3 separate regions of the Homo sapiens genome follow, and all the other regions are linked to region 3. Evidence: fine-mapped expression QTL. A gene starts in region 3. Each other region holds a variant in brackets. All regions are shown on one strand. Distances are from middle to middle. Region 1 holds the start of VN1R1 (vomeronasal 1 receptor 1). Region 2 overlaps ZNF749 (zinc finger protein 749). Region 3 holds the start of ZNF772 (zinc finger protein 772).

Evidence for each region. PIP is the estimated chance that this variant, and not a neighbour inherited with it, causes the effect.
Region 1: its variant is fine-mapped to the expression of ZNF772 in whole blood (INTERVAL, PIP 0.95).
Region 2: its variant is fine-mapped to the expression of ZNF772 in whole blood (INTERVAL, PIP above 0.99).

The regions. Positions count from the first base shown.
Region 1 is chr19:57,448,139-57,458,698 of GRCh38, forward strand. It overlaps VN1R1 (vomeronasal 1 receptor 1), which reads right to left and starts at 9,002. Exons shown (of 1, transcript NM_020633.4): 1 at 6,652-9,002. The coding sequence starts at 8,348. The coding sequence ends at 7,287. The variant G/C (reference allele first, on the strand shown) is at 4,442.
Region 2 is chr19:57,438,996-57,447,337 of GRCh38, forward strand. It overlaps ZNF749 (zinc finger protein 749), which reads left to right. Exons shown (of 3, transcript NM_001023561.4): 2 at 2,890-3,016; 3 at 4,296-8,106. The coding sequence ends at 6,490. Among named protein-coding and RNA genes, the nearest start is that of ZNF749, 7.8 kb to the left of the region's middle. The variant A/G (reference allele first, on the strand shown) is at 4,881.
Region 3 is chr19:57,472,402-57,482,961 of GRCh38, forward strand. It overlaps ZNF772 (zinc finger protein 772), which reads right to left and starts at 5,165. Exons shown (of 4, transcript NM_001144068.2): 1 at 4,876-5,165; 2 at 4,233-4,271; 3 at 3,259-3,385; 4 at 1-2,020. The coding sequence starts at 4,908. The coding sequence ends at 873. RefSeq lists enhancers at 4,366-4,889, 4,480-5,679.

The sequences.
Region 1 (10,560 bases), 24 kb before region 3:
GTGATAGGAGTTGTTTAGCTCTGTTATAATACGGGATTACTGTTATACATGTGGTCCATGGTAGACAGAAATGTGTGGCATATGACTGTGGTATATGTATATGCCACTTTTCCTGTATTCTTTCTTCAGTGTACATTTGGGTTGCTTCCACTCTTCTGTTCTTGTTAATGCCACTATGAGCATGAATATACAAATACCTCCTGAGGCCCTGCTTTAAATTCTTCTTGGACATATACCCAGAAGTGGAAATGGTGCTTCCCGTTAATAATAATAATTATAATAATAATAATTATTATTATTATTTTGAGACGGAGTCTTGCTCTGTCACCCAGGCTGGAGTTCAGTGGCACAATCTCGGCTCACTGCAAGCTCCGCCTCCCGGGTTCACGCCATTCTCCTGCCTCAGCCTCCCAAGTAGCTGGGACTACAGGTGCCCGCCACCACGCCCGGCTAATTTTTTGTATTTTTAGTAGAGACGGGGTTTCACCGTGTTAGCCAGGATGGTCTTGATCTTCCTGACTTTGTGATCCATCCGCCTCAGCCTCCCAAAGTGCTGGGATTACAGGCGTGAGCCACCACGCCTGGCCACTTCCCGTTAATTCTATTTTAAATTGTGGGGGGAATTATTTTCCATAGCAGCTGCACCATTTTACATTCTCACCAGTGCAGGGGTTCTAGTTTTTCACATTATTGCCAACACTTTGTTTTTTAATCATGATGGGTGTAAGATGTTATTTTATTATGGTTTTTTAATTTGCATTTCAGTATTGGTGTTGAGCATCTTTTCATTTGCTTGTTGACTAATTGTATAGGTTCTTTGGAGAAATATCTGTTAAATGTCTTTGCCCATTGAAGAAAGTTTTTGTAAATTTTCAGATAACATTGTATGCTTTTGTTGTGTACAACATGATGTGAAGTATATATACTTTGTTGAGTGGTTAACATGTACGTATTATATATGTACATATTCTGTATACGTATTTTAAATATTAACCCCTTGCAGATATGTGTTTTTCAAATACTGTCTACCATTCAGTCTGCTTCCTTTTCATTCTGTTCATGTCTTTTTTTTTTTTTTTTGCACAGGAGTTTTCAAATTTCAATGGAGTCCAATATATGTTATGTTTGTTTCCTATGCTTTTGGTATTATACCCAAGAAATTATTGCTAAATCCAGTGTCATGAACCTTTTTTCATGTTATTTTCTAGGAGTTTTATAGTTTTAAGTTGTACTTTTATGTCTGATTTATTTCAGTTTGTTTTAGTAAATGGAGGAAGGTAAGAGTTCAACTTCATTCTTTTGCATATAGATATCCAGCTTTTTGAAAGTCATTTGTTGAAAAGACTCCTTAATAAGTTTTTGCGCTCTTGTCAAAAATCTGAGCATAAGTATGAGGACTTCCGTCTGGCCTCTTTATTCCACTATATGTATGCATTTGTGCTAGTACCAAGGTGTTTTGATACATAATTCTTTTAAAAGAATAATGTTTCTGTCCACTGTTGAGGCCCTTGCTAGAGGCTTGACAGTGCTACATTTGGAACAGCTGATTAAGTACACTTCCAACCACTTTCCTTAACAGGCTGTCAAACTCTGGGTCAATATATATCAGCCCCAGTCACCCCAGGAGCAGGTATCAGACATCTGGGGACAACTCCTATGCCCTGAAATGTGTAAAATTACTCAAATTGGCCAAGTATAGAAAGCCCAGAAAATCTAGCTAACCCGAATCCACTTGCCACACACAAGCTGCCTCCTACAACTCCAGTTTGCTGTATTACTATCTATATTCCTTCACAACTCCGGTGCAGCCCTGAATCATGTCCTCTGGTTCTGAGTTGTAAGTTACAACATGCTCCACCTTTCATCTATCTGTCATGTCATGTCCTGACATCAAGAAAACTTCTAAATCTTAAAACTACATACCCAGAAGGGTATCATGAGTGCAGCGAATGTTGGAAAGTCTTCAGCCATTAACCTCATTCAGCACCAGTAAACCATCTTGGAGAAAGACCTTAGGAATGCAGGCAGGCAAAGTGCTTTTGCCAGCAGATAAAATAGTAAAGCTGTGGATATTAGCTTTTGTGAGGGAGACCTCAACCAGAAATGGAATCTTACATCCAAACATCCACACAAGGGAGGTTTGTTGTAATTGTCTGCTATATGAGAAGCTTTTGTGAATTACCTTGCACTTTCTGACCTGCCTGGGATCCTTGCCAGTGTTAAGTCACTGAAAGTGTGTACTACAAAAGACTTCCATCCACTATTAGCTGATATCACAGTGTGTATCACCTTAAAATGCTTAGGGAGGGCAGATAGCTGTGCTCTCTACCTTTATCTGGAGTTATTGAGTCTGATCCCTTCGGGCGAGGCCTCATTCCCACTTCCATGGCTGGTTTGGGTGCAGACATCATCCAACTTTGGACAGAGGATACAGGCTGGCTTGAGCTGGCAGCTTGTAAAGATTTTCCTTTCTTCATGGGTATTATTGCTTGTCTTATAATGTTGGTGATAGATTTTTCACCTTCCAAGCTGCCCAAACCCAGTCAATTTCCACGTGACTATACTGGTTTTAGTGATGATAAAGTCATTGTTTAAGCTACATTTACTCATTGCAGTTTTATTCTCTGTGTGCTGTGGGTTGAGAGCAAAATTGGAGTCTGCCAAAATGAAAAAGTGAGTGGTTTTGTGAGGTTTTCAATTTTATGTACTTCCAAGGAAATAGCAAAAACAAAAAAACCAAAAAAAAAAAAAAAAAAACAACTCAATCCACAAACGCCTGATGTATATTGCTTCAGAAGGTTCCTGGGAAAAAGAAGGATTTCTATCCAAAATCCTTTACCCTGAATTTGAAGATTATTTATGGTTGCACAGTCAGCTTGCAGCCAGGACAATTGGTTTGACAACTGTCAGGATTTATGGCAGCTGTGAGAGCTGGGTATTTGTACCCATGCATGTCCCATATTCTCCAGTATTGTTTAGGGATAGCTTGCTCCTGTGATGTGCCTTATGAGCTATGTGTCTTGAACCCAAAAATGATGTAGGTTATGTTCCTGGATGTAAAATGTAAGAGTGCATTAGTTTGTTGTCCATTGCTTATAAAATAATACCTGAAACTGGGTTATTTATAAAGAAAAATCTATTTCTTACAGTTATGGAGGTTGAAAGGTCCAAGGTTGAGTGGCCGCATTTGGTAAGAGCCTTCTTGCTGGTAGACTGTGCAAAAAGTCCCAAGGTGGTACAGGGCATCACATGGTGAGGCTGCTGAGTGTGCTCACATGTTAACGTGCTAGCGCAAATCATTCTCTCTCTTTTTTTTTTTTTTTTTTGAGACGGAGTTTCGCTCTTATCGCCCAGGCTGGAGTGCAATGGCGCGATCTTGGCTCACTGCACCTCCGCTTCCTGGGTTGGCTCACCGCAACCTCTGCCTCCCGGGTTCAAGCAATTCTTCTGTCTCAGCCTCTTGAGTAGCTGGGATTACAGGCATGTGCCACCACACCCCGCTAAGTTTTTATTTTTAGTAGAGCAGGGTTTCTCCCATGTTGATCAGGCTGGTCTCGAACTCCTGACCTCAGGTGATCTGCCCGCCTTGGCCCCCCAAAGTGCTGGGATTACAGGCAAGAGCCACGGCCCCTGGCCCTTTCTCTTCTTATAAAACCACCAGTTCTCCCAGGATAACCCATTAGTCTATCAACCCATAAATTGATTAATTCATTCCTGAGGATAGAGCCCTCATGATTCAATCACCTCTTAAAGGTCGCACCTCTCAGTACTACCACACTGTAGATTAAGCTTCAATGTGACTTTTGGAGGAGATGGTCAAACCATAGCAAGCAGTTTGGGAACCATAGTCTGTACAGAAACAGTGATTGTATTAATATGAAGTATGAGACACCAGCAAACTAGAGTGGAATGGATGAGCGCCTTGTAAAGAGACATCCATGAATGTTTCAGTAACTATGGCTATGTGAGATGAGGGTATACAGAAACTCTGAGGACCTACAGACGTGTGTATCTCCTGTAGGCAAAGTCATTGTCAGAGCAAGTAATCCAAAGGTGTTATGGATTCTTGTGTCTCTGGCGTTATAAAACGTATGTTGAATTTTAATTGCCATTTTAACAGTGTGGAGAAATGGGACCTTTAAGAGGTGATTAGGTCATGATGGCTCTGCCCTTATAAAGGAATCAATGCCTTTATCATAAGAGTGGGTTTGTTAACCCGAGAGTGACGTTTTTATAAAATCAGCTGTCTCTGTCTTTCATGCTCACTTGCCCTTCTGTCATATTATGACAGAGTAACAAGGCCCTCACCAGATGCCAAGCAGATACCAGTGCCATACCCTTGGACTTCCCAGCCTCCAGAACTGTATGAAACAAACTACTTTATAAATTACGCAATCTGTGGTGTTTTGCTATAGTAGTGGAAGACAGACACAGACATAAA[G/C]CCTGTTAATTCAAACCACTACTGCACAGGTAGGAGCCTCATGACTGAATGAAGGGAGATTCTATACTTCTGAGATAAGTCTTTTTTTTTTTTAAACCTAAACATAATTCCTGGTGACTCAGGTGGACATAACCTTCCTTGTCTCCAGTTCTTCTTCCCCGAGATTCTGAATTTCCAACAACATTGCTTCCAGTTTTTGATACTATAAAATCAGAGTTGACCCACGTAAGACATGAGGAGAGGCTAATGATGGAATCAACACAGCTTTGCCAGAGGTTATAAAAGAGGATTGAGAAATCCAGATTTTATTTGGAATTTTTCTTTTCTAACAGCTTTATTGAGGTATTAGTGACATTCAGTTGCACATTGTTAAAGTGTAAAATATATAAAAACAATCACCAAAGTCATGATAATAAACATATCCATTGCCTCAATAGTTTGTTTGTACCCTTTTCTATTCTCTCTCGCTCACAGTCCTACCCAAATTTTTATGCTCAGGTAGCCACTGGTTTACTTTATGTCACTATATACATCTTTCCTTCCTTCCTTCCTCCCTCCCTCCTGCTCTTTTCTTTTTCCTTTTTTCTTTTCTTTTTTCTTTGTTTCTTTCCCTCCCTCCTTCTCTTCTCCTCTCCTCTCCTCCTCTCCTCCTCCTCTCCTCTCCTCTCTTCTCTTCTTTCTCTTTCTCAGAATTTCACTCTTGTTGCCCAGGCTGGAGTGCAATGGCACGATCTCAGCTCACCGCAACCTCCACCTTCTGGGTTCAAGCGATTCTCCTGCCTCAGCCTCCTGAGTAGCTAGGATTACAGGCATGCGCCACCACGCCTGGCTAATTTTGTATTTTTAGTAGAGACGGGGGTTTCTCCATGTTGGCCAGGCTGGTCTCGAACGCCTGACCTCAAGTGATCCACCTGCCTTGGCCTCCCAAAGTGTTGGGATTACAGGCGTGAGCCACCATGCCCGGCCTATAAATTTTCTAGTATCTTATACAAATGAAATCCTACATTACATTCATATGGAGCATTTTTTGATATTTATACATGTTAAGCGTATTCATTTTTTGTTGATGAAGAGTATTGCATTGAATATACCACAATTTATTAATCTATTAATAAATATTTTGATTGTTTCTAGTGTTGGACTAAAAAACTAACAAAGACCCATGAACATTCATATACAAGTGTTTATATGAATATATTTAGCAGAATTGCATTTGTTATACCTCCTTGTCCATGATGGTTATGGTGTATTTTAAAGATTAACCATTTTCATAGATGTGTTGTGGTCAGTGTGGTTTTTAAATTTGCATTTCTCTAATAATTAATGATGCTGAATAAGTTTTTATATGCTTATTTGTTATCTGTATATTTGGCCAAATTTCTAAATCTTTTCCCTTTTTTTAAAAAAAAATCTTATTTTTCTATTTTAATAGAGTTTTAATTTTAGAACATTTTAAGATGTACAGAGAAATTGCAAATATAGTACAGAGATATCTCATTTACAAGCACACCTAGTTGTTACTAATATATAGTCATATATTAGTATACAGCATTATTTACAATTAGTGAAACAGTTTTGATACATTATTAAACTAAAGTACATCTTTGATTGAGATTTCCTCAGTTTTTACCAAAATACATGTTCTGTTCCAGAATTCCACCTAGGATACCACATTGCATTTATTTTATTATTTTTTATTCTTTTATTTATTTTTTTTCATGTGTCTCTAAATGTAACCACATTACAGTTAGTACTCACATTTCTTTAGGCTTGTCTTGCTTATGAGAATACTCATTTATTTTGATATTGATTTTTAATTTTTTTTTTTTTAGATAGTCTTGCTCTATTGTCCAGGCTGGAGTGCAGAAGCACTTTCTTTCTTTCTTTTTTTTTTTTTTTTTTGAGACGGCGTCTTGCCCTGTCTCCCAGGCTGGAGTGCAGTGGTGGGATCTCGACTCACTGCAACCTCTGCCTACTGGGTTCAAGGATTCTCCTGCCTCAGTCTCCTGAGTAGCTGGGATTACAGGCACCTGCCACCATGTCTGGCTAATTTTTGTATTTTTAATAGAGATGGGGTTTCACCATGTTGGCCAGGCTGGTCTTGAACTCCTGACTTCAAGTGATCTGCCCACCTCAGCCTCTCAAAGTGCTGGGGTTACCGGCGTGACCCACGGTGCCCAGCCACTTTTAGTTATTTTTATTTTTATTTTGAGTCTCCCTCCGTCACCCAAGCTGGTAAGTAATTCTCGTGCTTCACCCTCTGGAGTAGCTGGGACTACAGGTGTGTGCCACATGGTTGGCTAATTTTTGTATTTGAGACAGGGTTTTTGCCATGTTGGCCAGGCTGGTCTCGAACTCCTGGCCTCAAGTCATCTTGAGTGGATCACTTGAGGCATTTGGGAGTGCCTCAGCCTCCCAAAACGGTGGGATTACAGGCGTGAGCCACTGTGCCCGGCCTGCACATGTCTTTCTTACATGTGGACTCTCCAGGGGATTTATGCTGTTCAAGAAGCACCTGAATCAAACTGTGCTTTAAAAATATTTTTAAAACATTCCATGATTCTTCATAGTACAAAAATGAGAAATCTCCCCTAAATCTCTAAAGAATTCCCTTTTTAAACTTTTTGATTTCCTGAACTTGTCTGAAGGACTTAACACAGTTATATAGAGTGTTCTTTGTGTAACAGTATCCATGACTTTCATTTTTAGCTCTGGTATTAGATCTTCCTGGACAAGAGCATTACTGGCCATGTGTATGTTGCTATCACAAATAACTAGTAGTTAATATTTCCTAAATCTTAGCAAGAGTTATGATAAATAGCTGAATTCCATGAAGAGAAAAGACTCATGGCATGACAACCAGATTAGGAAAGAGTGTTTTCCTTGTCCTGCAGGCAAAACAGAACTGAGAGATATGAGTATCACTCATGATGAGGACAAAAGGGCTGCGTGCTGGGAAACATGAGGCGACCAACACAGAGTTGGTCACTATCCACTGGCCTGGGTTTGCAACTACAGTTGTCCAAATTGTCAGAAAACTATGGACTGAATAGAAAACAAAAAAGGAGCTCACCAGGACCATGATGGTGTGTGTGGCTCTGGCTTCCTGGGAAGGTCTGCAGGAGAGTCTGTTGCTGTGATTGTGTTGGACTTGCTGCTTGTGTCTGTAGAGGAAGAAGACCATGGAGCCACTGGCCCAGACCATGAAGCCCAAACTCATAAAATCAGGGGAAAAATATAAGACTGCATGTAATGAGCTAAATCTCTTTGATGCTTTGTAAGAACAGTATCCATAATTGTTTTTTGCACTACTGTTTTTGCTATTCAGTGGGCCATTCACTAATAGAAGAACAGATGCATTCATCAAGACATGGGGGGCCCAGCAGAGGAGACAACAGAAGTCAATAAACCTTGGGGATCTAATCTTGATCTCCATCCACCTGCATATACTGGGGTTGAGCTTAATGGCTTGGAATCCATTGAGAAGGCAGATGGTGCTGAGGGAAACTCTTGTGCCCACCCTGTGATAATAAAAGACAAACTTACATCCAGTGTCATTCAGCAAATATTTCAATCCAAAAGCTGCCATTGTCTGAGGTATCCCTTTAAAGAAAAGGACCATGGAGTTAGCCAAGGCCAGTTGGCTGAGAATCAAGTCCGTGGGTCTCAGCTTGTGTCCAGTGAACAAAATTAAGTTATAAAAACAAAGGAGAAAGGAATTTCCCAGGATCCCAACTCCAGTCTGAATGAGGAAGCTAATCCCTGATTTTACTTTTCCAAAAGCCATTTCATCAAAATCTAGGGGATGTTGATTTTCATTGAGGTCTGAAGAATCAGTAGAATAAAAAAGCAGAAAGAAGTATCTTGTCATCAGTGGAGACAGAAGTTTTAATGTGTCTCCAACCATATTTTCTCATCTTAAACAGAAATTAAGATTGTCCCTGTTCGTGCAAAGGCAATTGCTTGTGTGTCCAACTGCAGAGAAGCAGGTGAATGAATGAGGGCTCAACCGCACAACAGATCCACAAATCAAACCTATAAAACTCAGGGCTTACACACATGCAACAAGTAAATACAAGCAAAACTAGGGAAATATATAAAAACAGAACACAGAAGAGTCAATATCATTAGAGTGATATTATACTATAGTTTGCAAAATGTAATCATGACGGAACCCTGGGTAATATGGACAGGGCTTTTTCTGTATTATTTCTTATGACTGCTTGTGAGTCTACACTTATTTCAATAAAACCTTCAATTAAGTAGCCTGGAGATATGAAAAGCAAAAATAATACACCATAAAACCTTTTCCACACTAATATTTTAGTAAACACCATTGTTATTGATGCATTGAAACAAATTTTAGGCCGGGTGCAGTGGCTCACACCTGTAATTCCAGCACTTCGGGAGGCCAAGATGGAGACCATCCTGGCCAACATGGTGAAACCCTGTCTCTACTAATAATACAAAATACTAATAATACAAAAATTAGCCGGGCATGGCGGCGCGTGCTAGTCCCAGCTACTCGGGAGGCTGAGGCAGGAGAATCGCTTGAACCTGGGAGGCAGAGGTTGCAGTGAGCTGAAATCAAACCATTGCCCTCCAGCCTGGGCGACAGAGCGAGACTCTGTCTCAAAAAAAAAAAAAAAAGAAATTAAAAAAACGCTACAATACAATTGGTAACAAGGCCTTCAGCACAGTACAAATGCTAACTTGAAGAATTTTTAAAAACTATAATTTTTGGAACAATCAACATTGCATCATGGTATATTTTATTTTAAGCACATATATTTCTGTTATTTTCCACCGGACAGGTCTAGAGATTGTGAATTGACTCCGTAGAAATAACCATGACCACCTTGAGCCCACACATTTTTATCTCAATGCCATTTCTCACAAGTAAATGCAAAAGATCCTGAAAATAAATACTAATCCCAGAAACACCTAAGATATCCTTAAAACTTGTTAAATAGGAAATTCAATATGTTCCAGAAAGCTTGGGTTTATTTTTAGGGAAAGATAATTCAATTGGGAGGGAATTTCATTGCACAATATTCATATATATCAATCACAAAAGAAATAGTAACTGCGGCCAGGCACGGTGGCTCACGCTTGTAATCTCAGCACTTTGGGAGGCTGAGGCGGGTGGATTACAAGGTCAGGAGATGGAGACCATCCTGGCCAACATGGTGAAACCCCGTCTCTACTAAAAATACAAAAATTAGCTGGGTGTTGTGGTGCGTGCCTGTAGTCCCAGCTACTCGGGAGGCTGAAGCCTCCTGGGTTCACGCCATTCTCCTGCCTCAGCCTCCTGAGTAGCTGGGACTACAGGCGCCCACCACCACGCCCGGCTAGTGTGTGTGTGTGTGTGTGTGTGTGTGTGTGTGTGTTTAGTAGAGACGGGGTTGCACCGTGTTAGCCAGGATGGTCTCGATCTCCTGACCTCGTGATCCGCCCGCCTCGGCCTCCCAAAGTGCTGGGATTACAGGGATGAGCCACCTCGCCCGGCCATAATTTAGATTCTTTTGGTGTCTCTATGGAATTGCTATCATCAGGGAAAATTATGAGGTATTTTCTCCCATGAATAACTACATCTCTTTAGGGGTGGAGCAATCAATAACACAGCAGTATCAAGATTCTCAGGCGAGAGGTGGCTCACGCCTGTAATCCCAGCAGTTTGGGAGGCCGAGGCTGGTGGATCAGCTGAGGTCGGGAGTTCGAGACCAGCCTGACCAACAGGGAGAAACCCCGTCTCTACTAAAAATACAAAAATTAGTCAGAGGTGGTGGCGCATGCCTGTAATCCCAGCTACTCGGGAGGCTGAGGCAGGAGAATCGTTTGAACCCCAGAGGCGGAGGTTGCAGTGAGCCGAGATCATGCCATTGCACTCCAGCCTGAGCAACAAGAGTGAAACTCGGTCTCAAAAAAAAAAAAAAAAAACTCAGGCTCTGAGGTATGAAAACCTTTTAGATTCCCACAAACCACTTGTTGACAAATGTTTTTCCTATTTATATGAACTCATCATTTATTTTCAAGATAGTTCCTGATTCTTTGCTTTAATCTCTTATTTTGCTCCATTGTCCTAGTTGTATAATTTATTTCCAATATGCATTTGGTTT
Region 2 (8,342 bases), 35 kb before region 3:
GGCATGCGGGATCGGCATGGAATGGCAGTCTAAGGTTCTGGGCCTTTCATCTGAGGGCGATGGTAACTAGGGAAGGTTTGAGGAGGGGGGAAAAAGAGGTGACCTGACCCAGGTTTTAGTGGCTCCCTCTGCCTGCAGAATGGAAGACCACGTGCAGGTGAGGGTGGAGCCACCGATACCTGGGTGATGGGTCCAGCAACAGCCCAGGTGGAGGTTGTTGGTGACTGAACGAGAGTGGCGGTGGTGGAAGTGGGAGGAGTGGGGGGCTTCTGTATGTGTTTGATCTAGAGCTGCCTGTATTTTATAACGTAGAGAGCAAGGAAGCTTGGGAGCTGAGATGGAAGAGGGGGTCAGGAATGGCCCCACAGTTTTGGCCTTATTTGGAAGGATGGATGTCCCAGCAACTAAGATGTAGTAAGTTCTGTAGTAGGGGGAGTGTTTATATAGTAGAGCATATGAGGAACCAAGTTTTGGCCAAGTCAAAAATGTTCCAGTGGCCAGGCATGGTGGATCACACCTGTAATCCCAGCACTTTGGGAGGCAGAGGTGGGAAGATTGCTTGAGGCCAGCCTGGGCAACATAGGGAGACTCTGTCCCTACAAATAATAATAAATAGCTGGGTGTGGTGGCGTCTCTCTGTGGTCTCAGCTAATCGGCGTGCTGAGGCAGGAGGGTCACCTGAGCCTGGGAAGTAAAGGCTGCAGTGAGCCATGATTGTGCCCCTGCACTCCAGCCTGGGCAACAGAGTAAGACAAACAAAAACAAAAATCCAAGCCAAAACAAAAACAAAAATACACAAAAAATGTTTCAGAGACTTTGAGTGGAGGTGCCAGGCTGGCAGTTGTACACACAGGAATGGAGTTCATTGGAGGTGTTCAGGAAGGAGACATCCACTACATGATAGCTGAACTGTTGTGAAACTGGGTCAGATTTAGGAAGCAATGGTGTTAGTAGGAAGGAAGGAGAAGGAACAGACTGAGGACTGGGTGTCTCCACTGGGCACCTGGATGGTGTTGGTGGGTGTCACAAAGACAGATGAGAGAGTGGATCGACTGAGGGTATGTGTGTGTATGTTTGTGTGTTATGTTGGGGGCAGCCTGTGGAGTATAAGGAAGGGCTTTTGAGGGGAGAGTGGCCATGAGATGGATGGTGAGGCATCTCCACAAACTCACCAGGGTTTCATGGTGAGTCTTGCTTGGACCTGGGTAGTTTCATGCAAACTGTGAGACTACTTTAGGGGAAGATGGGATCAGCAAGGAGCATTGCTAGGCCTGGGGTGGGGATAGCATTGGGGAGGTCAGTGTATCTGGGCTTTGGATTAGGATTAGGGGGATAGAGAATGTTGTGACTGCTTATGGGAAAACATGTACATTGCAAAAGGGGGAGACAGCCAAGATCTGGAACTCAGAGGAGGTATGCAAGAACTGTGAGGTTGTCACTTGGGTTTTGGGGGGGCTGAGGTTAAACCAGAAAACAGGACTGGGAAGGGAGACCTTCAGAACAGGGCTCGGTGCTGCCCCAGGCGCTAGGGAACATTATATTCTGGGCAGCCCAGGAGCAAATAGGGTTCTGGTGCACTGCAGGACTCCATGTACAGAGTGGCATCTTGGGAGGCCATGGAAATGCTCCTGGTTGGGCCAGGGCTGCTGTTAGTATTGCAAGAGTGGAGGCATTAGATACATGAGAGAGGTACTGTCCAAAGCGAGATGCGAAGGTGAGGAGGAGCATGAATGCGTGGTCCCAGCCCTGGCAATGGGCACGTAAGGGAGAAGAGTGAGCCTGAGTTTGGGTGTCTGGGAGGCAAGATCTGGAGACCCCAAGGAAATGGGGTGACAAAAGAAGGTAGGGCCGGCCGGGCGCAGTGGCTCATGTCTGTAATCCCAGCACTTTGGGAGACCAAGGCAGGTGGATCACGAGGTCAGGAGTTCGAGACCCGCCTGCCCAACATGGGGAAACCCCGTCTCTACTAAAAATACAAAAATTAGCCGGGAGTGGTGGCAGGTGCCTGTAATCCCAGCTACTCAGGAGGCTGAGGCAGGAGAATTGCTTGAACCTGGGAGGCAGAAGTTGCAGTGAGCCACTGCACTCCAGCCTGGGTGACAGAGCAAGACTCTTGTCTCAAAAAAAAAAAAAAAAAAAAAAAGAGGGTAGGGCGCCCTGGGCTAGGCATTGATGATGCTTTTGCTTTCTCCCCACCCATCTTTGTGCTGTGCTGGACTCAGCAATCAGTAGCAGTGGGGGCGAGAGAAGTGCGAATGCTACCAGGATGTGGAGTCTCTTCCTCCTTGGGAAGTGGGTGGAGGCTAAGCAGGGGATGGATGTGTGTGGGTACTGGGGAAGCACTGAAGATTCTGGAGAGGGAAGTGTATCAGTGATTGACCCGCTGGATTTTCATTTTTGGAAAAGAGTGAGTGATGACAGAGAGGCTAATGGCATTGAAATAATTTTAATTACTTTCATTTCCTTAGTGCAGGGGGAATGCCGTGCTGCACCAGGCCACGGGAAATACTAGATTTGGTTAGGAGGCAGAGGCATGACTGAAGGGAAAGCATATATCAGAGACTGTATTGGGGTTTTGGCAGGAAAGGCATGCAGGGTGGGATGAGGAGCTTAAAACTCAGTGGTTTGCATAAGTCTGGCAGCCTTAGGGCTAAGAGATTATCCCTTATTGTGTGGTGACAGGGCTTGTGTTGATTAGGACAGGAGAAATAATCATGTATGAGCATTAGATAGTGGTTCAGCATATGGGATCTGGATCGCAAGGGAAATGTAAAAACATTGGCTGTTAGTTTGGCCCTCCAATTCTTAGATTTTAAGTAGATAAATACAGATCTAAGGAAACACAGAATAAGAAGTTGTTCATAGACTGAAGTGTCATAATTTTGGCAGGATTGTATGGTCTTTGAGGATGTGGCCATATATTTCTCCCAAGAGGAATGGGGGATCCTTAATGATGCTCAGAGACACCTGCACAGCAATGTGATGTTGGAGAACTTTGCGCTTTTGTCATCAGTAGGTAAGGCCTTCATACCTACTCTGGTGTCTTGTGCTGGGTGCTGTTTTTTTGCTCTTTTCCATGACAACTCTGTCTTTCCCACACCAGATTGTGAGTGCTACGTCCTGTCCTCTCCTGGTTTCCTGGCAAATGTGATAAGGCAGCCAGAGCTGGGCTGTGTATACTGTACCACCTCCCCTTAAGCAGCCCCAGCTTCTGTTGCTCTGAAACTTTACAAGATAAGGCTCGGAAGTCAGAAATCTTCAGGTTTCTTTAAGATATCCTAATGGCGGTGCCTGTCCCTGGTTTGATTACTCTGTCCAAATGTGTGAAACCTCTGTCCAAGGGTTTCCCTGTTCCCCTTGCTGACATACTTGGAGACAGTGTCTGTGCTAGGAATTTCAGGCACCTCCCTGGTCACCACTTGTGAGGATTGTGAAGTTATTTCTGCAGGACGCTCTACTGGGTGTTCTGGTAGCTTTAGAATGCAGCATGTCCTGGGTTTATTGCTCTGTGTACATGCTGTCCCCTCCCTTTCCCTGCCTTTCCCGTAGCTGGACTTATGCCGCAGCTAGATAGTTGCTCACCTTGAGCAAGGGGGAGGTCTCTGGGTGCCTGGCAGAGTGGATAGTCCTCTATTAATGGCAAGAGACACTCAGAAGGACTTGGCCCTGGTGGGTGAAAGCTGGGAAAGGATGTGATATCAAGGCTGGGTTCAAATCACATTGAGAACTTACCTTGTGACCACTATTGTTTGATGCAGGGCCACTGGCCACTCGTCACTCTTCCTTTCCTTCCCTGTTGTTATTTTTACTCTGACTTCTGACCCCTGGCTTCCACCTCTGACCCCTCCTCTCCAGCCTTCATCTCTCCACCATTCTCTTCCACCTCTCCCTTTGCAGTGCTGTCTAATGTATGACCTGTACTTTAGGTGTTATGAGGTCTGCGTGTATCCTTCAGTAGTCCATGAATACTCGCTCTCACACAATCAGATCTCTCTGGATCTGGACACAACCGTCATGGCCTGTTGAAAGCCATTTATAGAGGAGTGAGTTGGAGACCCCACCTGCCCTCCCTGCATGGTACTTCTCCCTTGTGTCCTTACCACCAGGATTCCCCCACTACACACACTTCACAGGCCCACCTCTGAACACTGGGCCTTCCTCTCACTGGCCTTATTTCCTTGCCTGTGACCAGTCCTGTGCCCTCATTTGTGGGTGTGTCTCACAGACATTTGTGATGGGGCTGTCTCCTCCCTCCGGAGTTCACGTGCACTTCACCAGCATTTCTGTTCTTACAGGTTGTTGGCATGGAGCCAAGGATGAGGAGGTACCTTCCAAGCAGTGTGTTTCTGTAAGAGTGTTACAGGTCACAATTCCAAAGCCAGCTTTGTCCACCCTGAAGGCCCAGCCCTGCAAGATGTGTAGCTCAATTCTGAAGGACATTCTGCACCTGGCTGAGCACGATGGAACACACCCTGAGCAAGGGCTGTACACATGTGCAGCAGAGCATGACCTGCACCAAAAGGAGCAGATTAGAGAGAAGCTCACCAGAAGTGATGAGTGGAGGCCTTCATTTGTGAACCACAGTGCTCACGTGGGAGAGAGGAACTTCACATGCACGCAGGGTGGCAAGGATTTTACTGCCAGCTCAGACCTTCTCCAGCAACAGGTCTTAAACAGTGGGTGGAAGCTGTACAGGGATACCCAGGATGGGGAAGCCTTTCAAGGTGAACAGAATGATTTCAACTCCAGCCAAGGTGGGAAAGACTTTTGCCACCAACATGGGCTGTTTGAGCACCAAAAAACCCATAATGGGGAGAGGCCTTATGAGTTCAGTGAATGTGGGGAATTGTTTAGGTACAACTCCAACCTTATTAAATATC[A/G]GCAAAATCATGCTGGAGAAAGGCCTTATGAGGGCACTGAATATGGAAAGACCTTTATTAGAAAGTCCAACCTAGTTCAGCACCAGAAAATTCACAGTGAAGGCTTTCTTTCAAAAAGGTCTGACCCCATTGAACATCAGGAGATTCTCAGTAGACCAACACCTTATGAATGCACCCAGTGTGGGAAGGCCTTTCTTACACAGGCTCATCTGGTTGGTCACCAGAAAACCCATACTGGAGAACAGCCCTATGAATGCAACAAGTGTGGGAAGTTTTTTATGTATAACTCCAAACTCATCAGACATCAGAAAGTTCACACTGGGGAGAGGCGTTACGAGTGCAGTGAATGTGGGAAATTGTTTATGGACAGCTTCACACTCGGTAGACATCAGAGAGTTCATACTGGAGAAAGGCCTTTTGAATGCAGCATATGTGGAAAATTCTTTAGTCACCGCTCCACACTCAATATGCACCAGAGAGTTCATGCTGGCAAAAGGCTTTATAAGTGTAGCGAATGTGGGAAAGCCTTTAGCCTCAAACATAATGTTGTTCAGCATCTGAAAATTCATACTGGAGAACGGCCTTATGAGTGCACTGAATGTGAGAAGGCCTTTGTTAGAAAGTCCCACCTAGTTCAGCACCAGAAAATCCACACTGATGCATTTTCAAAAAGGTCTGACCTCATTCAACACAAGAGGATTGACATTAGGCCAAGGCCTTATACATGCAGTGAATGTGGGAAGGCCTTCCTTACACAGGCTCATCTGGTTGGTCACCAGAAAATCCATACTGGAGAACGGCCTTATGAATGCACTCAATGTGCGAAGGCCTTTGTTAGAAAGTCCCACCTAGTTCAGCATGAGAAAATCCACACTGATGCATTTTCAAAAAGGTCTGACCTCATTCAACACAAGAGGATTGACCTCAGGCCAAGGCCTTATGTGTGTAGTGAATGTGGGAAGGCCTTCCTTACACAGGCTCATCTAGATGGTCACCAGAAAATCCAGACTGGAGAACGGCGTTATGAATGCAATGAATGTGGGAAATTCTTTTTGGACAGCTACAAACTTGTTATTCATCAGAGAATTCACACTGGAGAAAAGCCTTATAAATGCAGCAAATGTGGGAAATTCTTTAGATATCGCTGTACACTGAGTAGACATCAGAAAGTTCACACTGGAGAAAGACCTTATGAGTGTAGTGAATGTGGGAAATTTTTTAGAGATAGCTACAAACTCATTATTCATCAGAGAGTTCATACTGGAGAAAAGCCTTATGAATGCAGCAACTGTGGGAAGTTTCTTAGATACCGCTCTACATTCATTAAACATCATAAAGTTTGCACTGGGGAGAAGCCTCATGAGTGCAGTAAATGTAGGGAATTGTTTAGGACTAAATCGAGCCTTATTATACATCAGCAGTCTCACACTGGAGAAAGTCCTTTTAAGTTAAGGGAATGTGGGAAAGACTTCAACAAATGTAATACTGGTCAGCGCCAAAAAACTCACACTGGAGAAAGGTCTTATGAGTGTGGTGAATCCAGCAAAGTGTTTAAATACAACTCCAGCCTCATTAAACATCAGATAATTCATACTGGAAAAAGGCCTTAGTGGAGTGAATGCAGGAAAGTCACCAAAACTGTCACCTCATTCAGCACCAAAAGGTTCACATCGGACCAAGAACCTATTAATATATGTAAATCTAATGTTGAAAGAGTTCAGATGGAAATCTGCGAGGATTTCCTGCTGGGAACTACATTAAAAACATTTATGTCCAGGCGTGGTGGCTCACGCCTGTAATCCCAGCACTTTGGGAGGCAGAGGTGGGTGGATCACCTGAGGTCAGGAGTTTGAGACCAGCCGGGCCAACATGGTGAAGCCCCATCTCTACTAAAAATACAAAAATTAGCTGGGCATGGTGGCAGGTGCCTGTAATCCCAGCTATTCAGGGGACTGAGGCAGGGAGCATCACTTGAACCTGGGAGGCGGAGGTTGCAGTGAACTGAGATTGTTCCATTGCACTCCAGCCTGGGTGACAGGGCGAGACTCTGTCTCAAAAAGAAAAAAATTATAATTGTGGCAAATTACAGGTAACTTAAAATCTACCATCTTAACCCATATTTAACTGTACTGTTCAGTAGTGTTAAGTCATTCGCATTGTTGTCAATTAATATCCAGAAGTTTTTTCAACTTAATGAAACTAAAACATTATACCCTTTAAACCAGGGGTCCACAACCCCCAGGCTGCAAACTGGTACCAGTCTGTGGCCTGTTAGGAACCGGGCCAGCATCACTACCTGAGCTTCACCTCCTGTCAGATGAGCAGCATTAGATTCTCATAGCAGCCTGAGCCCTATTGTGAACTGTGCCTGTGAGGGATCTAGGTTGTGTGCTCCTTATGAGAATCTAACTAATACCTGATGATCTGAGGTGGGACAGTTTTATTCTGAAACTGTCTGCCCCCTCCTCTGTCCCTGATGCGTGGAAAAATTGGCTTCCATGAAACCAGTCCCTGGTGCCAAAGAGGTTGGGGACCGCTGCTTTAAACTACTCCTCTTCCTCATTCCCTACGCCAACCAGCCCCTGACAATACTACTGTATGAATTTTACTATAAATATCTCATATGAGGAAACTTAAGTTTTAGTCTTTTGTGACTTATTTTGAGGCTTATTTCCCTAAATGTCTTCAAGGTTTATCCATGTTGTAGCATAGCTTATGATTTTCATCTTTTTTAAAGGCCGAATAAAATCCCATTGTAGTCATGTGTCGCCTAACAAGAGGACTGTGTTCTGAGTAATCATCTTAAGGTGATTTTGTCATTGTGTGAACAAAGAGTGTACTTACACAAACCTGAAGGGCACAGCCTATTACGCACCTAGGCTATATGATATGGTCCATTGCGCCTCAGATATAAACCTTAACAGCATGTTACAGTATTGAATATTGTAGGTAATTGAAACACAATGATAAGTAAATGTGTATCTAAACATATCTAAGTTTCCAAAAGGTACTGTAAAAATGTATGAAAAATGGTAAAAACTTTATAGGGCACTAACATGAACGAAGCTTGCGGGACCCCTCTGGTTGAGTCAGGGAGTGAGTTGTGAGTGAATGTGAAGCTCTAGGACATTACTGTACCCTATTGTAGATGTTATAAACATTGTACACTTAGGCTACTCTAAATTAATTTTTTCTTTAGTAATAAATTAACCTTAGTCTACTGTAACGTTTTTACTTCATGAACTTTTAAAATTTTAAAAAGCTTTTTGACTCTTTTGTAATAATAGCTTAAAACACAAACACATTATACAGCCTGTATAGAAGTACTCCTTTATATTCTATAAACTTTTTCTATTTAATTTTTTAACTTCGTAAAAAATAAGTTAAAAATGAAGACACAGACACACACATTAGTCAAGGCCTACAGAGGGTGAGGATCATTAATATCACTGTCTTTTGCCT
Region 3 (10,560 bases):
TATCACAACAAATGCCCACTGCTTAGGGTGACCTCAATTACACAAAAAATCTTAACATATAGACCAAAAGATTAGGCCTACAAAGACTGGCATTCTTTCCTAGGAGAGCTGAAGCAGTCAAGTAAGTTAGCTTGACACTAGCATAAGAGCTAGTCTTTGCCATCCTACTATCACTTCAGAGATACAGATAGTTGGAGCTCTCACAAAAGCTGTTCTTCCCTTCATACTGGCTTAGCTCAATTCTGTTCTCAACCCAACCCACAAAGCGAACAGAATCCTCAAGATTTCAGATAGTCTAAAAATTAAGGCATTTGTTGCAAAACCAGAATATGAGGCAGCCAATTTCAGGTCAGGTGTCTTGAAGGCTAGAAAAATTCGTCCCAAGTGCCATGTGAGATCAACTATATCCATGAAGGGAAACCTCTGCCAGTGGTCAGCAGAACAAAGCTCCCATTTTTCTGGCTAAAACTGGGTCATGCTCATGCTTAAACCAGTAGTGGGGCAGAAAAAAAGTGAGAATCCTTGATGGCCTCAGGCTACTGATGATTCCCTCCAGGGAAGGGAATAGTACAGAGGTCTGTCTTTTGAAACACATTGGGGTTACTTTGGCACAAGGCAGGACTCTTCCAGCACAAAGACAGATGGCTTCTAACAGGCACTGCCTTGACGAAATTCCAGCAAGAGTCTAGAAAATTCAGCATAGCTCCAGAAGGCTTCCCATATAGCTGGCACTCGGAAGAACCTCCCCAGGGTGAGTGTTTGAGTGTATAAAGTTCTACTTCTGGCTGTCGGCTACACATAAAGGCTATGCTTGGAGCTTCTCTCTGATGTCAGTTATTATGTTGAACAAGGAAACGGAATTATCTCCCATCCTAAGGCCTTTCTCCAGTGTGAATTTTCCAGTGGCGGATGAGGGAAGCCCTCTGCCTGAAGGCCTTCCCACATTCACTGCACTTATATGGCCTTTCTCCAGTGTGAATTCTATGATGCTGAACAAGTACATGTTTGTGGCTAAAGGCTTTTCCACATTCACTGCACACATAAGGCTTTTCACCATTATGAACTCTTTGATGTGCAATAAGGTCAGAGCTTTGGCTAAAGAACTTCCCACATGCGATGCACTCATAAGGCCTTGCTCCAGTATGAACACTCCAATGTTTAATGAGTCTGTATTTGTGACCAAAGTATTTTCCACATTCGCTGCACTCATATGGCCTTTCTCCAGTATGGATACTCTCATGCTGAACAAGTGTAGATTTGTGACTATAGGCTTTCCCACATTCACTGCACTTGTAAGGCCTTGCTCCAGTGTGTACTCTTTGATGTACAATAAGGTTAGAGCTATGATTAAAAACTTTCCCACATATGCCACACTCATAAGGCATTTCTCCAGTGTGGATTCTCTGGTGCTGAGCAAGTATGGGTTTGCGGCTAAAGGTTTTCCCACATTCACCGCACTCATAAGGCCTTTCTCCAGTGTGGACTCTCTGGTGTTGAACAAGTGAGTCTTTGCGGCTGAAGGTTTTCCCACATTCACTGCATTTGTAATGCCTTTTTCCACAGTGAGAGGCCTCCTCACACTTGGTGTTGCTGTGTGGCTTCCACTCATTGTGAGGGGCATGGTGCTCGAAAATGCTTGAGCTGGCTAGGAAGTCCTTACAAGCCTCCCCTGTCACAAAAGACATCTCCATTGATTGCACAGCACAGTTGTTCAGAAGAAAGGGCCTGCTCTTATCACTTCTAAAGGGTTTCTCTCCACTGTGCTGCTTCTGGTGCTGGTGAAGGTTTGCACTGAAGCAGAACTGTTTCCCACACAGCACACACATGTATGGTTTCTGCCCTGGGTGTGTTTCCTGGTGCTCAGCCAAGTGCAAAATGTCTTTTAAGACCAGGCCACATGTCCCACAGGGGTAAGCCTTCTGAGTAGAAGGACCTCCCTTGGGAATCCTGATCTGTGACATTCCTATAGAAAAGCTCTGCTCAAAAGGTATCTCTTCATCCTCCATTCCATGCCAACAACCTGAAAGCAGAGAAATGCTGGTGAAGTACAAATTGACACAGGTGGAAGAGGGGAAGCCTCACTACAAATATGTGTCTAACACAACTAAGACCAAGGTCATAGGACTGTTGTTAGGACAAGGGTCCAAACTCAAGTTCAGCAAATGTGTACTATACGGTAGTTGGCATCTAAATGTCATAGAATGGAGAAGGCCTCAACTGGGAGAGGACAAAGATGTGGGGTACAGCACAAAAAAGAGGCAGGTCTCAAAGTCATTCACAATCAGATTTTCTTGGCTGCTGGGGACAGGTGAGAGTTGTGCAGAAGGTTATGGTCCATACCAAAGAAAATCAAATTGCTACTCAGTAGTTGGTGTTTAAGGACTATTTGGGCTACACATCTCATGAAACACTAAGTACAGGCCAATGCTGGAAGGCACTGTAGAACAAGCCATGGAGAGGAACAGGTGAGACATGAAGGCAGAGGTATGGAACATCCAGAGGCCAAAGGCCAGAGTATGAAAGGCCAGTGGCCTTAGCACTAATACAACTGTAGGCACAAAGAGGCTATGGAATGATATGAACCCAGCCCTGACATCACACCTTTCCCCAGCTCCTACTCACCAGGGTCACTCCCACCTGGAGTCTCTGTGGCAACAGCTAGGGTCATGTCCACCCAGTCAGGTACCCAGGGCTCACTACCCATCACCAGTGAGGCAACTATGTGGGACATGAAAGATGTATGTCCTAAGGGAAAGATAGAACAGCACTGGTCTGGGTAACCCATATAGAAAACTAAATATTATTAAAATAATCTCAGAGTAAGGTCTTGCAGGAATAGTGCAGTGGTCCTAGCAAGTAGCGACCATAATGGTCCCTACAATTCCTGACATAGGCAGGCCACAGGAAATGTCAGCTAAAGGAAGAGCGCAGAATCCCAGGCACAGAGGTGTCATGGATACAGACAGAGGAATTCAGACAGGGAAAGGACAAGATGGATATGACCCACTGGGCTGACAATACAATGCATAACTCCTGAATCCATGCCTGCAAGGCTCTGAGACAGCAAGCGCTGGGAATGCTCAAAAGGAGAAAGTAGGAGTGCAAACAGCCCAAGCCCAGCACTCACAGAACCTACTCCAGGCACTAAGAAATGAGACAGTGTCCACGGCTCTGATGTAGGAAGGACAAAGATGCCCTGAAAAAAAGGGGAAGGGCAGGACCCAGTCCAAGTCACTGGGGTGGATGTGACGGCCTTACCCAGAGAGGCCATAAGTGCAAAGTTCTCCAGCATCACATCACGGTACAGGAGCCTCTGAGCCTCATCAAGGAGCACCCACTCCTCCTGGGAGAAGTACACGAACACGTCCTCAAAGTTCACCTGCCCCTGCCACAATCAGGAGAGCCAAGTCCATGAGCAGCATCTCTCCCAAGAACCCCCATCCGTGCCCCCACACATCTCCCTCCTGTACACCCTCCTACCTAACTCCTCAACTCAGGAAATATCAGGACCAGATGTCATTGGTGTCTTCTCTCGCCTCATGGTCCCAATGGATCACTGTGTCTACCCATAGCAACCACAGGCAGGTGAAGAAGTTGTCACCCTCTAAGCTCTGTGCTTAGCATACAGGGCCTCACCCTTCTGTAAGCAAATTCCTCTGGGGTCACTAACATCATGCTTACCAGACAACCAAAGATGGGCTTGCCTTTCTCCTTTAAGCCCAGACGTCATCAGTCTACACTTCTTTCCATATGTACATCACTCTTTGGATCACAGTTATCTCACAACTCTGGCTCTCCACCATCACTTTCCTGGCTCACTAAATGCACTACCACTGTGAAATGAATATTCTCTTTTAACTCCCAATCTACATAATCATCTTTAAGCCATTTCAGGATGATTCCCGCCCCCTTGCTCTTGGTTCCCACCAGACATGACAGAGACCTGCAATTTCTTGAAAACTCCCTTCTCAGTCTCACCTCTAAGTATTTTGCACAGGCTGGTTCCTGTGCCTGGAACAACCTTCCAACCTTATTCCAATGGTTGGCAGAAATGGAAACCCCTCCATAAAACCCCTGGCCCGGAGTCAGGACCCTGGGCTTGGGGCTTCTCCAGAGTCCTCAGACCCAAGAGATCGGAGAGTAGCAGGAGAGTGTTCTATATAACACCACAATGCTGGAGAGCGTATTGGGTGGGGGTGGGATCGGTGAGAGCATGGACATTCTCCCCTCACCTGTATAGGGTCCACAATTACTTCTGAGTTCATGGGAACCTGTGGGGAAGAGGGAGACTATGCGAGTCAAGCAATCTTGAAGGAACCCCAAAGGCTCAACCCCATCCCATATTCCTACCCAGTTACAATGTGCCTGGGAGCTGAATGTCTACCCTCTGTGCTTCCATCTTCAAGGATACCTCTTAACTGTGTTAGCTCGGAACAGTGCTCATTATCCGCCCCCATGGCCAACAAGAGTCTGCCCTCCATGAGCAGTCTATGGAATACTTTTTAAACCCTCGGATTCTGGCTCTCCTCTGTTCAGAACCTTCCATGGCTCCCATCACCCTCAGAATAGAGACCCAGCTGCTCAGGATGATATTCCAGGTGCAATCACTTATAAAGCGCTCTGATCCTTTCAGACACTAAAGGCCCAGTTTTCCCAAATGCTCCAGCTGTGAACCATCTCTGAGCCTTTGCATACACTGGTCTCTCTGCCTGGAACGTCCTTCAACTCGTGCTGTCAAAATGGGTCCCAAACACGAGCGCCCCCACTGTTCTAGATACAGGGGCCTGAGCTGCAGTAACCCGAGGAATCGTTCATTCGAAGCTTTGGGATTCAGAGATGGGGGTCAGCGCGCAGACTCGCAGACGCAGCACCCACCTGTGCCGGGCCCATCGGCTCAGCCGCCGCCATCAGGCCTGTGGACTACGGAAGGGTGGCGACAAGTGCAGGAACCTGGGATCAGCTGTCCAGGGCCCAGCCCAGCGGCTAGGTCACTCAGGCAGCGCCACTGTCAAGCCTCAGGCCCACCTCTCTTCAGGGAAGAAGACACTCTCTCACGTTTTCCCTTTTCTGTCACCTCAGGTCTGACATTGCGTTCTGGAAACTAAACCAGTGGATTAATGGAAAAGCAAACAAAATGTCCACCCGAGGATGGTAGAGGAAGTCCCGCCCTGACGTTGGTGAGGACCAACGGAAACGCCTATTTCCTGGGTTTTCATTGGCCCAGAGCCGCCAAGTTTCCTGGGTAATGTAGTTCCCACGGCACCAACACTAGTAAGCGGCGTCTCGCTTCACCTCCAGGTTAAAAGCCCAGAGAAGACCGCCAGGGGCGCGTGGAAATGGTGTCCCTCGTCTCCAAGGCCCAGACGGAGCTTAGCTTCCTCTTGAAGGAGCCATATCTGTATTTCTGGTGAACGTCGTGTTTGACATCAAAGGAATGTTTAGAGACATGATTTCAGCCTTCCTTACGCAGAGAATGCTCATCAAAAAATAAAATGGACACACCATACACTGACGTCACTCAGATTTCTATGGCTGGAAGTTAACAAATATTGTTTTCAAATGCGTGTAGCCTGATGCTCCAGAGTTAGTTTGGCGAGCCTCAGCATTTTCTGTCAGGCACAAGAAAGAAAAGACTCCAGACACCATGATGTGGAACGTGGAGTGGGGATGTTTGGTGGCCTTGAAGTAAGTGAATAACCCTTCTGTCTGTTACCTCAGAAAATATTTATCCTGCTTATACAGCAGTGATTGTGTCAAACCCAACAAGTAATACTCTTGTTCAAGATAGTATTTCATACTCCATATACAGAGATGTATTCAATATTTTAAGTGTTTTACAAGTGTCTGAAAAGACAGAATTCATCAAATGTCATATGGCAATGAAAAGGGCAACATGAACACTTTCTGTAAAGAAGAAATAACCACCAAACTAGATGTCTATACACAACAAAATGTCTTTTATGGAAGTGTGATATAAAACTATTTGAAACCAAAAATGATAAATGTAATGGAAATACATTTACACAAAAAATAATGTTTAAAATAATACTCAAGGCCAAAGAAAGTTGATCTCAGGTGAAAAGTCTGCAATGAGAGAAGAAATGAAGATGAAAAGAAGTGCATCTTTTGATTAAAATAACAGCATATTACAGTGTAAAACATAAGTAGATATACTTATTGAGTTAGAATGATGGAATTCCCGTGCGTAACCTCAACTACATATAAATTGAAAGGAGGCTAGTTGCTCAAAGTTTTAAATTTTTTATATTTCCAAGTGGAAAGCAAATGTATTACAATCCTGTATGGCACGCTAATGTGTTAAACGTTTGTAATTTTTAGCCTAAATATAATAAATACAGTCAGCGTATATACTTTTCAAACTAGAAGAGGAAATGTTTGGAATATAAATAAATAATCAATAGAAAGGTAAAATAATAGTAAAATAAGTGGAAGAAGTGAGGCAAAGAAAAGCACAATGTAGGATATATTTAAACTGTCAACCTAAATAACAGAGATTCTTCAAAGATGTTGAGTTCATTCAGGAATGCACAGGGGATTTGCAAATCCAGGACATGCAGGCTATAGGGACTATAGGCATATCCAGAGAGCTTGAAACAAGGAGAAGCTTTCAAAGGCAAAAGGGAAAAGTATATATAATTTGTTTTGAGATAAAAAGAACATTGGTCACAGATGTTTATGGCAGAGGTTAACACCAGTTCATTAGTGGAGACAATCTGTCAGGCAAGTGTTCTACTACATCTAGAGCTGTCCTTGTAACTCCTGTAGCAAGCTGCGGTTTGAGAAGTTCTTGTCAAAACTTCTTTTAACGGGAATATGTGCATTAAGAGCCCTCAGAGACAGTAATAGCTCTTATCTTAAGCATGTGTGTTTGAGTGCCCTCTTTTCTCAGCCTCCTGGCTTTATTTATTTATTTACTTATTTATTTATTTTACACAAGTTACTCATTTTGGTTTTGACAACTTTTGCAAAACCTAAATGACTATGCAATAAATACTCAAATAAGCAGTTAGTAATTTTTGATGGACCAAAACACGCTTCACGAGGTATTCTCTTTTCTTCAGTGAATTTCCACAGAATTTGAATTGTGATTGAAAGCACAACTAACATTCCCAGACTCCCTACTCTGTCAGTAAGAAAAGAATCATGTTGTAGTTAGAAACGTCCAAAATCTGCTTTAGAGAAACCAAGACCTACGCTTGAAGGTTACCAGGCCCTTGACTCACCCAACTGGGCTGAGATGTCATCAGGGAACTGCATATCATCAGCATCTTCTGGTTATTCATACAGGGGTGGGATAAGGATGACAATAATTTACATTTAATAATGTCCATATCCTAGACATTCTATCAGACCTTTTATAAACACTACGCACTTTTGCCCTGTAAAGTGGATTTGTCACCTAAATTAATATGAGGAAACTGAGGTTTCTTGGGTCTATAATTTATTTTCAGCTGTAGCTGTTAAGTGGCATAGTTGGCAATGGAGTCCAAGGAGCCATGACTAACTACTTCCCAGCATGGCCTCCTACCCTAGGTCATCTATCTGGGTAGGTTCAGAGCCCTTTCTATGTTAGACAAACAAGGCTATGAAAAATTCAATGTCCCAGGCAGCTGACATGAGGACAAGAATGTGTCTTGCCTTTTCTTCACCACAGAAACATGAACCTTCAGCTTCATTTATTCCCTAAACGTGGGTTCCTTGGATGCCAATCAAGAATCAAAACAGGAAAAGTCCTGCTGGCCCACAAATACAGAGGGTTTGATAGGTGAAATGTTATTGCCTGAGCCTCACCGTATCATCCCAACCACCCACATATCCTGTTACCTCTGCCTCCTAATATGTCTCAGGTCATCTTCTTCTCAACACCTCCAATTTCATGCCCTTGGGCCAATCTGCCAACATTCCTGAGCTACACAATGCCTTCTGCCTTGTATCCTACATCAGTTTTTTCTCTACTTTAGTTCATTCTCCACATATCATGCAGAAGATGACTTCAACACAAATCAGGTTCTATTTGGGAGAATCAGAAGCATGTTGGTGGCTAGAGGGGGAAGGGCTTCCCTCCAAACTTTAGTGTTATAACATGGTTTAGGGTTATAACCTGTCCTGCATTTTCAGTGGTCCCACCAGTAATTTCTATGTTGTCTTTTTTGTCAGGCTCATTGCTACTGTCCAGCCCCTAGGATTTCTTCCTCAGCAGAGGACTCCTGTAATGCCCCTGACTCAATCCACATTCTCTTCCTCCTCTCTCCTTTACAGCAAGAACTAAAATCATTTCCTTGCAGACCTAGGCCAGCGAACAGGAGATTCACAACCATGTTATCGATTTGGTGCTGCCCTTCACACTTCATGGAACATGAAAGCTCAGTGAGGGTCTGAGTCCACTTCCCAGCAGAGAGAGCATAGCCATGTGCCATTTATGTGAGAGTGCAATCTTGGTACATTTAGAGTAACTGTTTAATCCAATATGCAGATGGATGGTGTTCAATTAGGAATTCTCAAAATTTTTTTAAAAAGAATTCTCAAATAAAAATCTCATATAATTCCTATTCCATTTAAAGCCAATGATTTTGTTTTCCTGTGCTTTGAAACTAGAACATCCTTGTTGTCTCAATCCCAAGACGGAAGCCAAGCTAAAAAACAAAAGGAGCAGGACTTCACAGAAGCCCTAAGGCTCAATGAAGGATGGGCCATTGCACATTGCACAGTCTTTTTAAAAAAACAATAATTGTACTGCTATCCACACATCCTTGTGAGTCATTTCTCATCAGACATATATTCTAAGCCATATGCAGTACATACAGCTCTAAATTCTAGTAATCATCCTGACAGAATTCTAATGAAGGAGGTGGATGAGCATTTACCAGATTCAAATGAATGCAAACTGAAAAATAGGCAAAACTATGTTAGATGACAATGTAAGAAATCAGACATGCCACAAATTAGACCTCCTTGATGGGTGAATGACTTACAGCGGGGGTTACAGAAATGCTGGTATGGCTGGGCGCAGTGACTCACACCTGTAATCCAGTACTTTGGGAGGCCTAGGTGGGCAGATCACGAGGTCAGGAGATCGAGACCATCCTGGGCAACATGGTGAAACCCCGTCTCTACTAAAAATACAAAAAATTAGCCGGGCATAGTGGTGCGTGCCTGTAGTCCCAGCTACTCGGGAGGCTGAGGCAGGGGAATCGCTTGAACCTGGGAGGCGGAGGTTGCGGTGAGCTGAGATTGCACCACTGCGCTCCAGCCTGGTGACAGAGTGGGACTCTGTCTCAAAAAAGAAAAAAAAAAAGAAATGCTGGTATACTAACACTGTTCTTTTTTGATTGGCACACTGCTTTTAGAGATGTGTTGACTTTGGGAATATTCATTGAGCTGTACAACTACATGTTAATTTTTGTGAATGTCATTTGTAAATTAAAATTTACCAAAAGTTCATGCTAACAAACCCGAAGTGCCTATTCCATATTGTTATGCAGGCTGGATGTGATGGCTCATGCCTGTAATCCCAGAACTTTGGAAGGCCTAGGCAGGTAGATGGCTTGAGCTCAGGAGTTCAAGACTAGCCTGGGCAACATGGCAAAACTCGTCTCCGCAAAAAAAAAAAAAAACTAGCCAGGTATGGTGGCTTGCACCTGTGGTCCTAGCTACTTAGGAGGCTGAGGTGGGAGGATTCCTTGATCCTGGGAGGTGGAGGTTGTGGTGAGCTAGGATGGCACCACTGCACTCCAGCTTAGGCAACAGAAGGAGACCCTGTCTCAAATATATACGTGTGTGTTTGTGTGTGTGTGTGTATATAATTCTCCAATGTAGAATAATATATATATTATTCTCCAATGTGGAATAATAATTAATAATAATACTAATAATTCTTGGGCATTTACCCAATTGAAATAATAATTCTTGGGTATTTGCCTGATTGAAATGAAAAACTGTCTTTAAGAAAAATTCGGCTCTTCTCCCTTTAAGACCAGCTCTGCCTCTGCCTCTGCCTCTGCCTCTGCCTCTGCCTCTCCCTCTCCCTCTCCCCTCTCCCCTCTCCCCTCTCCCCTCTCCCCTCTCCCCTCTCCCCTCTCCCCTCTCCCCTCTCCCCTCTCCCCTCTCCCCTCTCCCCTCTCCCCTCTCCCCTCTCCCCTCTCCCTTCTCCCCTCTCCCTCTCGGTCTCCCTCTCCCTCTCTTGCCATGGTCTCCCTCTGATGCCGAGCCGAAGCTGGACTGTACTGCTGCCATCTCGGCTCACTGCAACCTCCCTGCCTGATTCTCCTGCCTCAGCCTGCCGAGTGCCTGCGATTGCAGGCGCGCGCCACCGCGCCTGACTGGTTTTCGTACTTTTTTGGTGGAGACGGGGTTTCGCTGTGTTGGCCGGGCTGGTCTCCAGCTCCTAACCGCGAGTGATCTGCCAGCCTCGGCCTCCCGAGGTGCCGGGATTGCAGACGGAGTCTGGTTCACTCAGTGCTCAATGTTGCCCAGGCTGGAGTGCAGTGGCATGATCTCAGCTCGCTACAACCTCCATCTCCCAGCCGCCTGCCTTGGCCT